2 separate regions of the Homo sapiens genome follow, and region 2 is linked to region 1. The links come from fine-mapping of genetic effects on gene expression. A gene starts in region 1. The other region holds a variant in brackets. All regions are shown on one strand. Distances are from middle to middle.

Region 1 (5,370 bases):
TCTAATTTTATTTTTTAGCATTTCAGTTGTCTGCCTTATCAAGTATTAATATTTAAATAATTCTCATAGATATATTAAATGTCTTCATTTCTTTTAAACTTTTAAGTTCTCTTTGCTCCAATTATAATCACAAACTTCGGAAAATGTTATACCTTTCAACTTACAGTCGCTATCAAAAATCAAATACTTAGGGCAGGGTGTGATGGCTCATGCCTGTAATCTCAACACTTTGGGAGGTCGAGGTGAGCAGATAACTTGAGCCCGGGGCTTCAAGACAAGACTGGGCAACATGGCGAAAGCCAGTGTCTACAAAAAAAAAATACAAAAAAATTAGCCAGGCATGGTGGCACACACCTGTGGTCCCAGCTACTCAGGAGGCCAAGGTGGGTTGATCATCTAAACCTGGGGAGGTCGAGGCTGCAGTGAGTGAGTCATGATTGTGCCACTGCACTCCAGCCTGGCTGACAGAGTGACACCTCGTCTCAAAAAAAAAAAAAAAAAAAAAGACTGGGTGCGGTGGCCCACGCCTGTAATCCCAGCACTTTGGGAGGCCGAGGCGGGTGGATCACGAGGTCAGGAGATCAAGACCATCCTGGCTAACACGGTGAAACCCCGTCTCTACTAAAAAATACAAAAAAAAAAAAATTAGCCAGGCGTGGTGGCGGGCGCCTGTAGTCCCAGCTACTTGGGAGGCTGAGGCAGGAGAATGGCGTGAACCCGGGATGCGGAGCTTGCAGTGAGCCGAGATCGCGCCACTGCACTCCAGCCTGGGCGACAGAGCGAGACTCCGTCTCAAAACAAACAAACAAACAAACAAAAAACACAAATACTTAGATATTTTACATGAGAATTACATTTATCTATCAGATACTCTACCATGCCAGATTTCCTTACAATTACGAAAAATAGCAAACACATATTGTTTGTAAATGCAACACAAAAACGTTAATGCTCTGGTTTCTATCTGCCTTGTCATTCCGTTATTTGACTCCATTTTCGAGGTTAGAAACTCACTGTAAGGTGGCCGGGCGAGGTGGCTCACACCAGTAATCCCAGCACTTTTGGAGGCCAAGGAGGGTGGATCACCTGAGGTCAGGAGCTCGAGACCAGCCTGGCCAACATGATGGAACTCCATCTCTACTAAAAATACAAAGAAAATTAGCCGGGCGTGGTGGCAGGCGCCTGTAATCCCAGCTATTCGGGAGGCTGAGGCAGGAGAATCACGTGAACCCAGGAGGTTAGAGCTTGCAGTGAGCCGAGATCGCGCCACTAAAACAAACAAACTCACTGTAAGGAAACAATGTAACCCAAGGCATTTGGGGTGACCTTCACGTTGCCTGAGGGTGCCGAGGGACCAGAGATGCTGGCCATGGACTAAGGTCTGGGTATTCTCAGGCAGCAGGGACAAGGTGGGCTTTTTTCCTGGTTGCTAAACCCACGTCAAAGTCGAGCTCAGGGACTGGAGCTCAAGAAACCCACCGCCCATTCTCCAGTCCGACCGGGGACCTGCATGCACCTCTGCCGTGCTGCCCTGAGTCCTCCAATCCTCCACACTCTTCCTCTGTTATGTACACGTCTCCACCCAGGCCTGCAAAAGTCCCAGCTTCCTCGCAGGGGCAGGGACCCGCACGCCGGCCCAGGGCTTGGCACGCGGGGATGCTGAAACAGGGCCAGGCCTGGTTTCCAGCCGATCGTCAGAGTCCCAAGGCCCAGCAACCTTCCTCACAAAGGCCTCGTTAAGAGGCGAGGAAACAAGAGCCGGGAGAGGGGCGCGGAACGGCGGGCGGGACGAACGACCAGCTCCGCGCCTCCGGCCAGCTGCGTCGAGCCAGGGGCACCGCGGCTGTTGTGCGGCTGGAAATCTAGGAATGGGAAGGTTCGGGGCCTGCTCGGCTCCGGAGGCAGCTGGCGGGTCGTCCCTGGCGGCGTTGGAGCGGTCAGTGGCAGCCGGGCACGGGCGACCGGGTCGCCCGGGTCGCCCTCAGACCGTGACTCCCGAAAAACCTTGCGGGCGGGGCGCGCCCGCGCCGTCTCTTGCCGGAAGGTGCGAGTTAGTGCGCTCGATTGTGGGCGGGGGCGGAAAGAGGCGCGTTTTAAAGTGGTAACAGATGGTTTTCTTATCCAATAGGATTAAAAAATTTGTCCTTACCCGGCCGACCGCGGAAGTAGAGTAGGCGGGCGGCCAATGGGGACATGATGGGGGGCGGAGCCGAGGCCTCCGAAGCGGAAGTGGGTTGCTGTTGAGGCGGCGGCATCTTTCTCGAGGAGCTCTCCTGGGCGGCTGAAGAAGGAGCTTCTTCTCCGGAGTGCGCCGGCGGTGGCGCCTGCGGACCTAACTAGCTCCAGGTTAGGCCGAGCTTTGCGGGAAAGCAGCGGTAAGTCAGGGCCTTGCAGATGCGAGGTTTAGGCAGCTTCGCGGCCTACAGAGGCCTCGGCCCGCGCCTCTTGGGGGAGCCGCGCTGCGCGGCTTGACCCAGCCGAGGCTTTGCAGCCCGGGACCTCGAGCCAGCTCTGGTCGCTCGCACTGCCGTCCGCGCGGGCGCACCGAGCCCGGCTTGGCGCGGGCAACAGAAGTTAGGAGGTCTGCGTCTGGGTCTCGGCTCACCCTGGGGGGCCGCGGCCATGGGGCTTAGTTCCTAGCCTAGGAAGGGAAACTGAGACTCTGGGAGGGGCAGGAACGCCCCCAAGGTCACTTGGAAAGTCGGGCAGGATGTGCTGTTAGGGGGAAGACCCGGGCAGGGTTTTTGTTCCCCGCTGACGACGCCTCCTTTGTGTGTTCGCGCCGCCGCCCCGCCATCGTGGGGCCTGCGAGTTTGCCGGGGTGCGTGGGCCGCGTGGCGGGGCCTTTTGTAGGTCGGGAGGATCTGAGTACGGGTGCGGGCCTGACCGTGGGGGCGCCGAGGTCGCAGTCTAAAACTTAGTAGGGCCTCGATTTCCGGGCGCGCTTCCGGGCCCCGGCTGGTGGTTGGTGGAACGTGCGACTGTGAGGCTTGCGGCCCAGCCCTGCACCGCTCGGGCCCTTCACCGCTCTGGCGCGCCTATAGACAGGTGTATGAAGATTCTCACGACCCGAAACAGAGTTGCTAGTAAACACCGCTTTTCCGCCTTTGATCCATCGAGGGAAGAGGGAAAAGGATAGAGCTTGGGCAAGCCGTTTTGGTAGGGATTTCAGCTTTTGTCTTTCACTTGTCAGTTCCCATAGACGTTCACAAACTTAATAATCTTCGTTCTGTTTCTGCACCAAGTTCTTGAGCCAGACGTAGGGTCTCAGCTCTGGAGCCTGGCTTAGACTGTCCAACTGACTGGGGAGACTGAGGTCCAGAAAAGTGAAGTGGTCTGCCCAAGGTCACATAGCCAGCTATTTGGCAGCAGATGAGGTTAAGTCCTACCTGCAAGATTTGGGTTTTGAATTCATTGACCAGGAGTTTTGGGACCACTGTCAATAAAAGAGACATTGAAGGGAATCTTTTGTTACTTTCTTGGTGATTTGCTTTTTAATGGACAAGGACATATTGGGTTCAGTTTTATCTGTGAGTTTGAGGTGAAATAGAGGCATTCGAGTAGCAAGATATATTGCTGGCTTTTGTATTGCCTGAATTTGAGCTTCCAAAAATCTTACTTTAACACATCGTTTATTGATCTTTTCTTGAATTACTACCTTTGTAAGGACCTTTTGTAAACATTGTTTTTCTAATCTTCATGAAATCTTAATGCCATACGTAAACTATTTCTTTTTATATAATGTATGCACATCTGTGCTTTGTACATAAAATGAGTAAGATTTTTCACTCTCCTCAAGATCAAAGTAGCGTATTTTTGAGGTCTCCTGTATGCCAACCTTTCTGCTTGGAATACAGCAGTAAACAGTCGTGGTCCTCCTGTAGCTGGGTGAGGATGGAGGGAATAAGAGATAACTCATTTTATTGTGTTTTGCAAATACTGCCTTTTTTTTTTTGCAAGGTGAAGGTTTATAGCAAGGATTCATCGAGCAAGTCTGTAAATGCCAGCCATTTTTCCAACAGCATGTGCTCACTTTGTGTCTCTTGTGTCACGTTTGGGTAATTCACAATATTTCACACTTTTTTTTTTTTTTTTTTTTTGAGGTGGAATCTCACTCTGTCACCCAGGATGCAGTGCACTGGCGTGTTCTCGGTCTCACTGTAACCTCTGCCATCTGGGCTCAAGTGATTCTCCTGCCTCAGCCTCCGGAGTAGCTGGGATTACAGGCATGTACTACCACACCCAGTTAATTTTTGTATTTTTAGTGGAGACGGGGTTTCACCATATTGGCCAGGCTGGTCTCGAACGCCTGACCTCAAGTGATCCGCCTGCCTCGGCCTCCCAAAGTGCTGGGATTACAGGCATGAGCCACCATGCCCAGCCCCAAACCTTTTCATTGTTACATCTGTTATAGTGACCTGTGATCAATGTTTTGGGTTACCATGAATAGCACTCATATAAGACAGTGAACTTAATTGGTAAAAGTTGGGTGTGTACTAACAGCTCCACTGACTGGCAGTTCCCAGTCTCTCTCCTCAGGCCTCTCAATTCCTTGAGACACAATATTGAAATTAGGCCAGTCAGTGACCCTACAGTGTCCAGGCAAAAGGAGCAGTCAGTTGAATCTCTCTTACTTTAAGTGAAGTTAAGAAATGTTTATCCTTAGTGAGAAAGGCGTATCAAAAGTTGAGATAGGCCAAAAGCTAGGCCTCTTGTGCTGAATGACAGTTAGCCAAGTTGTGAATGCAGAGGAAGAGTTCTTGAAATTAAAATGCTACTCCAATGAATACATGAATGATAAGCCAAACAGCCTTATTGCTGATAGGGAGAAAGTTTTAGTGGTCTGGATAGAAGATCAAACCATCCATGACATTCCCTTAAGCGAAAGCCTAATCCGGAGCAAGGTACTAACTCTCTTCAATTCTGTGAAGAGTGAGGAAGCTGCAGAAGAAAAGTTTGAAACTGGCAGAGGTTAGTTCATGAGGTTTAAGGGAAGAAGCCACCTCTGTAATGTAAAAGTGTAAGGTGAGGCAGTAAGTGTTGATGAAGAAGCTGCAGCAAGTTATGCAGAACATATAGCTAAAATAATTGATGAAGGTGGCCACACTAAACAACAGACTTTCAATGTAAATGAAACAGCCTTATATGGAAAAAAAAATACTATCTAGGACTTTCATAGCTAGAGAAAGGTCAATGCCTGGCTTCAAAGGACAGTCTGATTCTCTTGTTAGGGGCTAGTGTGGCCAGTGACTTAAGTTGTAACTAGTGCTCATTTACCATTCTGAAAATCCTAGGGCCCTTAAGAAGTATGCAAAAATCTACTGTGTGCTGATCATTGAAACAGGAAAGCCTGTATAGTAGCATATCTGT
Region 2 (5,370 bases), 32 kb after region 1:
GTGAGCCGAGATCGTGCCACTGCACTCCTGCCTGGACGACAGAGCGAGACTCTGTCTCAAAAAAAAAAAGTTAAATGCATTACAAGACACTTTCCCCAAATATTAGACCAATACTGTTTCTTAAAAAACTTCATTTAGTGTTTTGTTGTTGTTGTTGTTTGTTTGTTTTTGAGATGGAGTTTTGCTCTTGTTGCCCAGGCTGGGGTGCAGTGGCGTGATCTTTGCATCCCGGGGTTCAAGCAATTCTCCTGCCTCAGCCTCCCGAGTAGCTGGGATTACAGGCATGTGCCACCACACCTCGCTAATTTTGTATTTTTAGTAGAAACGGAGTTTCTCCATGTTGGTCAGGCTGGTCTCGAACTCTCAACCTCAGGTGATCCGCCCACCTCAGCCTCCCAAAGTGCTGGGATTACAGGTGTGAACCACTGTGCCTGGCCCATTCCGTGCTTTTTAATATTAATATTAATAGTAATCAGAAATAAAAATGGTTGTGCGTCATTTTTTACTTTATATAAATGGAAGTTGTACGTTAACTGTTTGGTCCATGTCCTTCTCACCTTTATCCTGTGCACATGTAGACATCACAGTATACCCTAAGGGCTGAAAGGCAAGCTTCACAACAGATGCAACCCATTTTGTATGTTGAGGTTCTAGCTATCAGTATATATCACTGTTATTCTCCATCCAACTAGGGAGACAAACTTGAGAGATAAATGGAAATTAAAAGTTTGTCCTTGGCCGGGCACGGTGGCTCACGCCTGTAATCCCAACACTTTGGAAGACTGAAGTGGGTGGATCACAAGGTCAGGAGTTCAAGACCAGCCTGGCCAAGATGGTGAAACCCCATCTCTACTAAAAATACAAACAAAATTAGCCAGGCATGCTGCCAGGCGCCTGTAATCCCAACTACTCGGGAGGCTGAGACAGAGAATTGCTTGAACCCAGGAGGCGGAGGTTGCAGTGAGCCAAGATCGCACCACTGCACTCCAGCCTTGGCGACAGAGCGAGACTCTGTCTCAAAAAAAAAAAAAAAAAAAAAGAATTTGCCCTAGATTAACCGATGAAGTTACTAAGCTAAGCCTGACTTTTGGTCCTTGGGCCAAGTGAGAGTGGTCAGCTTCACCTGCTGGGAGGAGCAGAGGTTTCAGGCTAGTCCATCCCAAAGAGAAAGGCCTGGGGCTGGGCATGCATGGTGCGTTCTCCCAGATGGGGCACAGAGGCATAGCCGTGTGGAAGTGGGATGCCGTGGAATAGAGGTATGCACATGCGCACACATACATAACCCCCCAGGTACATTTGTAAAAACCATACCTCCCCACTCAGAGCAGAATTCTGGAAGGGTGGTTACTGGCTTTCCCTCCTGAGGGAGGTGTTGGTCCTGGTGCTCTTTGCAGTGTATACTTCAGGATTGTTTTAGTTTGGGGTAAGCCTATAACATTAGCAGTCATACTAAAGTGTAGAGGGATACAACCTTACTTTCCTCTTAATCTTAATGCTTGTTGAAATACTTTCTTTTGAAGCTGGAGATGAAATTGTGGACCTCACTTGTGAATCTTTAGAGCCTGTGGTGGTTGATCTGACTCACAATGACTCTGTTGTGGTAAGTGTTGGAGTGTGAGAGTCGGCTGTTTCTTGGGTATGGGTCCCTGGCCAGTGCCAGCATCTGACAGCCTTGGTCACAGACTCCAAGTCAAGGTTACAGCTTATGCTAAAGAAGTTCATGCATCTTGTGGAATTGAGCTTTTAGAAAGAAAATAAACAGTAACAATAATAATAACAAAGAAGTTCATGCATTCAGTGACGAGAGCCCAAAATGAAAAATGTTTCTGGAAAATCATTTGTTATAGCCTTGTCGCCTATGGAGTAGGTCTGTGTAACCTGACCTTGCCACACCTGGGCACAAAAGTGGTTTGGGGAGAATCTCAAGACCCCCACATCTGTCTTCAGTCCCTGATTCCACAGTTTACACCAGCTGTGTGACCTTGGGCATGTGACTTAGCCTCATTCACTTTCCATGAAATGGGGACAGGTCACTCATGTCAGCAGGGCATGGTGTAAGACATCTTACAACAGATGCCGTGTTTGAGTGCCTGACACCTAGAATGGTGCCCAGTCACTGTGAGTGTATGCCCTCCCAACTGAAAGGAAAGGGAACGTTGGCTCAGCACTGCCCATGGGAAATCTCTCAAGTTCCAAAAGTGCCTGCTACTTAGCATGGCCTCAGGGGATGCAGGCTCCCTGCATTGCCACCTGATGCCTGCTGCGTCCTGATGCCAGGGAGGCTGGAGCCCAGGAGGCTGCCTGTGTCCCTGTCTCATGGCACCGGTTACAGACTGCAGGGGACGTGTGTATACGTGTCCTGCCTGCCAGGAGGGAGGCCTTGTCTGGTCAGAGGACACACGGAGAAGCTATTTCTGATAGACCTGTTTCATGGTGCATGCAGGTCTGGGAATCTGGTCAGCATCTTAAGGGCAAGTTTGCCTCTGGAAGATGCCACTTGAGTGTTTTCTGACAGTGTGCTCGGAACACAGGTCGGGGTGGGGGCACACTTGGCAGCATTGGCAGTGGGGTGGTAAGTGCTGCTGAGGAGGACTGTGGGGTGTGGGGGCTGCTAGTAGCTGAGTCTTCGCCTTGGCCCTGGGCTCACTGGTGTTGGGGTTATCCTGTTTGGCTGATGCCTGGGTATCTGAATAGGGACACCCCATAGGTGTTGCTTCTTAG[T/C]TGTGCTGAGAACTTCAGAATAGGGTTATACTGAGAAGTTTCAAGACTTCAATGCAAAGAAAAGGACAGGGATGGAAAACCATCTGAGATAAGCAGCAGTGGGTTTAGTTGTACGTGGTCCCTGCTTAGGTCTCATTAACGTGTTTTCTGAGGTACATACACACATATGACTTTGCTTATCATCCCTGTGTCCTGCATGGAGTTCTGGAAAGATAACTAATTTGGTATATTAGCTGGCAGCTACAGCACAGTCACTGATTTTTCCCCTCTTTCTTTTTCCCAGCTGACACCTTGGTTTCACCAGTTGCTCATTAAAGCTGGAAAGTGGTGTCTGCAGAAGTTTTTTTGTTTTTTGTTTTTTGTTTTTCTTGAATACTCAGTGTTCACCACAGTCTTCTTGGCCTTCTCTCTGCCAGACCCTGAGGAGAGAGCTAGGATTTTGACTGCAGGAAGACAATGATTGATTGGCTTTTGTTGGCTGACAAACCAACATCATTTCCCCTTTCACACTTGTGTTTTCTTTTGCTTTAGAAACAGGGTCTCAGGCTGGGCGCGGTGGCTCACGCCTGTAATCTCAGCACTTTGGGAGGCCGAGGTGGGCGGACCACAAGGTCAGGAGTTTGACATCAGCCTGGCCAACATGGTGAAACCCTGTCTCTACTAAAAATACAAAAATTATGCGGACGCCTGTAGTCCCAGCTATTCAGGAGGCTAAGGCAGGAGAATCGCTTGAACCCAGGAATCAGAGGTTGCAGTGAGCCGAGATCACGTCACTGCACTCCAGCCCGGGCAACAGAGTGAGACTCCATCTCAAAAAAAAAAAAAAATACAAAAATTAGCCAGGTGTGATGATGCATACCTGTAATCCCAGCTACTCGGGAGGCTAAGGCAGGAGAATTACTTGAACCCAGGAGGCGGAGGTTGCAGTGAGCCAAGATCGCGCCACTGCACTCAAGCCTGGGCGACAGAGCAAGACTCTGTCTCAAAAAAAAAAAAAAAGAAAAGAAAAGAAACAGGGTCTCACTCTGTTGCCCAGGCTAGAGAGCAGTGGCATGATCACACCTTACTGCAGCCTCCAACCCCTGAGCTTAAGTGATTCTCCCACATTATCCTCCTGAGTAGCTGAGACTACAGGTGCATGCCACCATACACTACTAAATTTGGGTCGGGTGGTGGTGGTGATTTTTTAATATTTTTGTAGAGACAGGGTCTCACTGTGATGCCCAGGCTGGTCTTGAACTCCTGGGCTCAAGCAGTCACCCACCTCAGCCTCCCAAAGCACTAGGATTACAGGTGTGAGCCACCACACTGGCCAGCTTTGTTTTGTTTTGATGACTAAGCTGCTCTTGCTAAAAGGGCTTCCTCTCTGAACTTCCCTACCTTTCTTCTGTTTCCCTGGGCTAGGGCTCCATGTTGGCAGTCCTACTCCCAATTAACCTGGGGCTGTCTGGTTAACCTTTATAAGATCTGCAGTCATTGGGAGACCCGGGGACCAGGAATATTGGTGTTGAGGGAGCTACCCTGGAAAGTGGATGGGTGGCCAGAGGGAGAGCTGATAGGTAAAAGGGAGACGCTCCTGGCTTGGGAAGCAGGAGTCCTAGGTTCTGGTCTCTCAGATCTACTGGTCAGTTTGATCAGTGGATTTATCTCACACTGTCCTCAGTGTTGTCAGCCACAAAATAACTGCTTTGGACTTGATAGCTCTTGCTAATCATTCTCTACTTATTTTTGATTTTAATAAGTCCAAGTGCCAGTTTATGAATTTACACTGAGACATATACTTGAGTTTGGAATTCTGCCTCTGAGCAGATCTGTTTGGGAGGCCTCTAATGCTAGTCACTGAGGATAAGGGGCATCTGTAGATGGATCGTGTGTTCAGGGTGACCCTAGGCTGCACCTGCAGGAGAGTATAAAATGGATAAATGTATTCATTCTGGAAGCGGGGTAACCTTCCTTACCAGTTCCGCCAGGACCTGTCGAATAGTTTGAGTGCACTGCTTTAGCTCCAGTAGCTCTGTACCTGTAATATAGGAATCCCTGGATACCAGGATCCAGAGGTAGCCGTCAGAACATCAGGGAACCCTCTAAACTTTGTGCCTGTGGTCCCAGCTACTGGGAAGGCTGAGCAAGGAGGATCACTTGAACTCAGGAGTTCAAGGCAAGCCTGGGCAACATAGTGAGACCCTGTCTTCTTCAAAAAAGAAAAAAAGACTGGAAACTTTGCATACAGGTGTGCACATTCTTCCAACTTTCGAAGGAATTCAAAGCCCCTGAAAAATGAAGGGAAATGAAAAATGCGGTAAGATGCAGTGAGAGACTTTGTTCATCTCATTTGATTAGTTTCCCTCAAAATGAACTTTCATTTTTGGCATTGCATAGCCTAGAAAAGGCATCACTGCTGTGTCCCGAGGTGTGAGTGTCTTTGATTTTTACTGGATAAATGCCAGACTTTTCTAAAGAGGGAGCAGTTCACATTCATGCCAGTGTTTGAGGTTCTCCACATCCTCATGGCCACTTTTAATTTTAGCCATTCTGATGCTTGTCCAGTGGTGTCTCATTGTGGTTTTAATTTGTGCTTTTTTATTACAAATGGGATCAAACACCTTTTCATGTTTATTTTTCTCTTTTGTGAAGTGCCTGTTTAAAACT

Evidence for each region. PIP is the estimated chance that this variant, and not a neighbour inherited with it, causes the effect. A credible set is the group of variants that fine-mapping cannot tell apart.
Region 2: its variant is the best candidate, but not a certain one, in a credible set for the expression of RNF4 in whole blood (TOPMed, PIP 0.89).

The regions. Positions count from the first base shown.
Region 1 is chr4:2,466,884-2,472,253 of GRCh38, forward strand. It overlaps RNF4 (ring finger protein 4), which reads left to right and starts at 2,223. Exons shown (of 8, transcript NM_002938.5): 1 at 2,223-2,375. It overlaps LOC107986250 (a long non-coding RNA gene), which reads right to left and starts at 2,068. Exons shown (of 2, transcript XR_001741551.3): 1 at 1,517-2,068. RefSeq lists a silencer at 1,766-1,935 and enhancers at 2,086-2,445, 2,129-2,701, 2,746-2,865.
Region 2 is chr4:2,499,139-2,504,508 of GRCh38, forward strand. It overlaps RNF4 (ring finger protein 4), which reads left to right. Exons shown (of 8, transcript NM_002938.5): 4 at 1,521-1,600. Among named protein-coding and RNA genes, the nearest start is that of RNF4, 33 kb to the left of the region's middle. The variant T/C (reference allele first, on the strand shown) is at 2,722.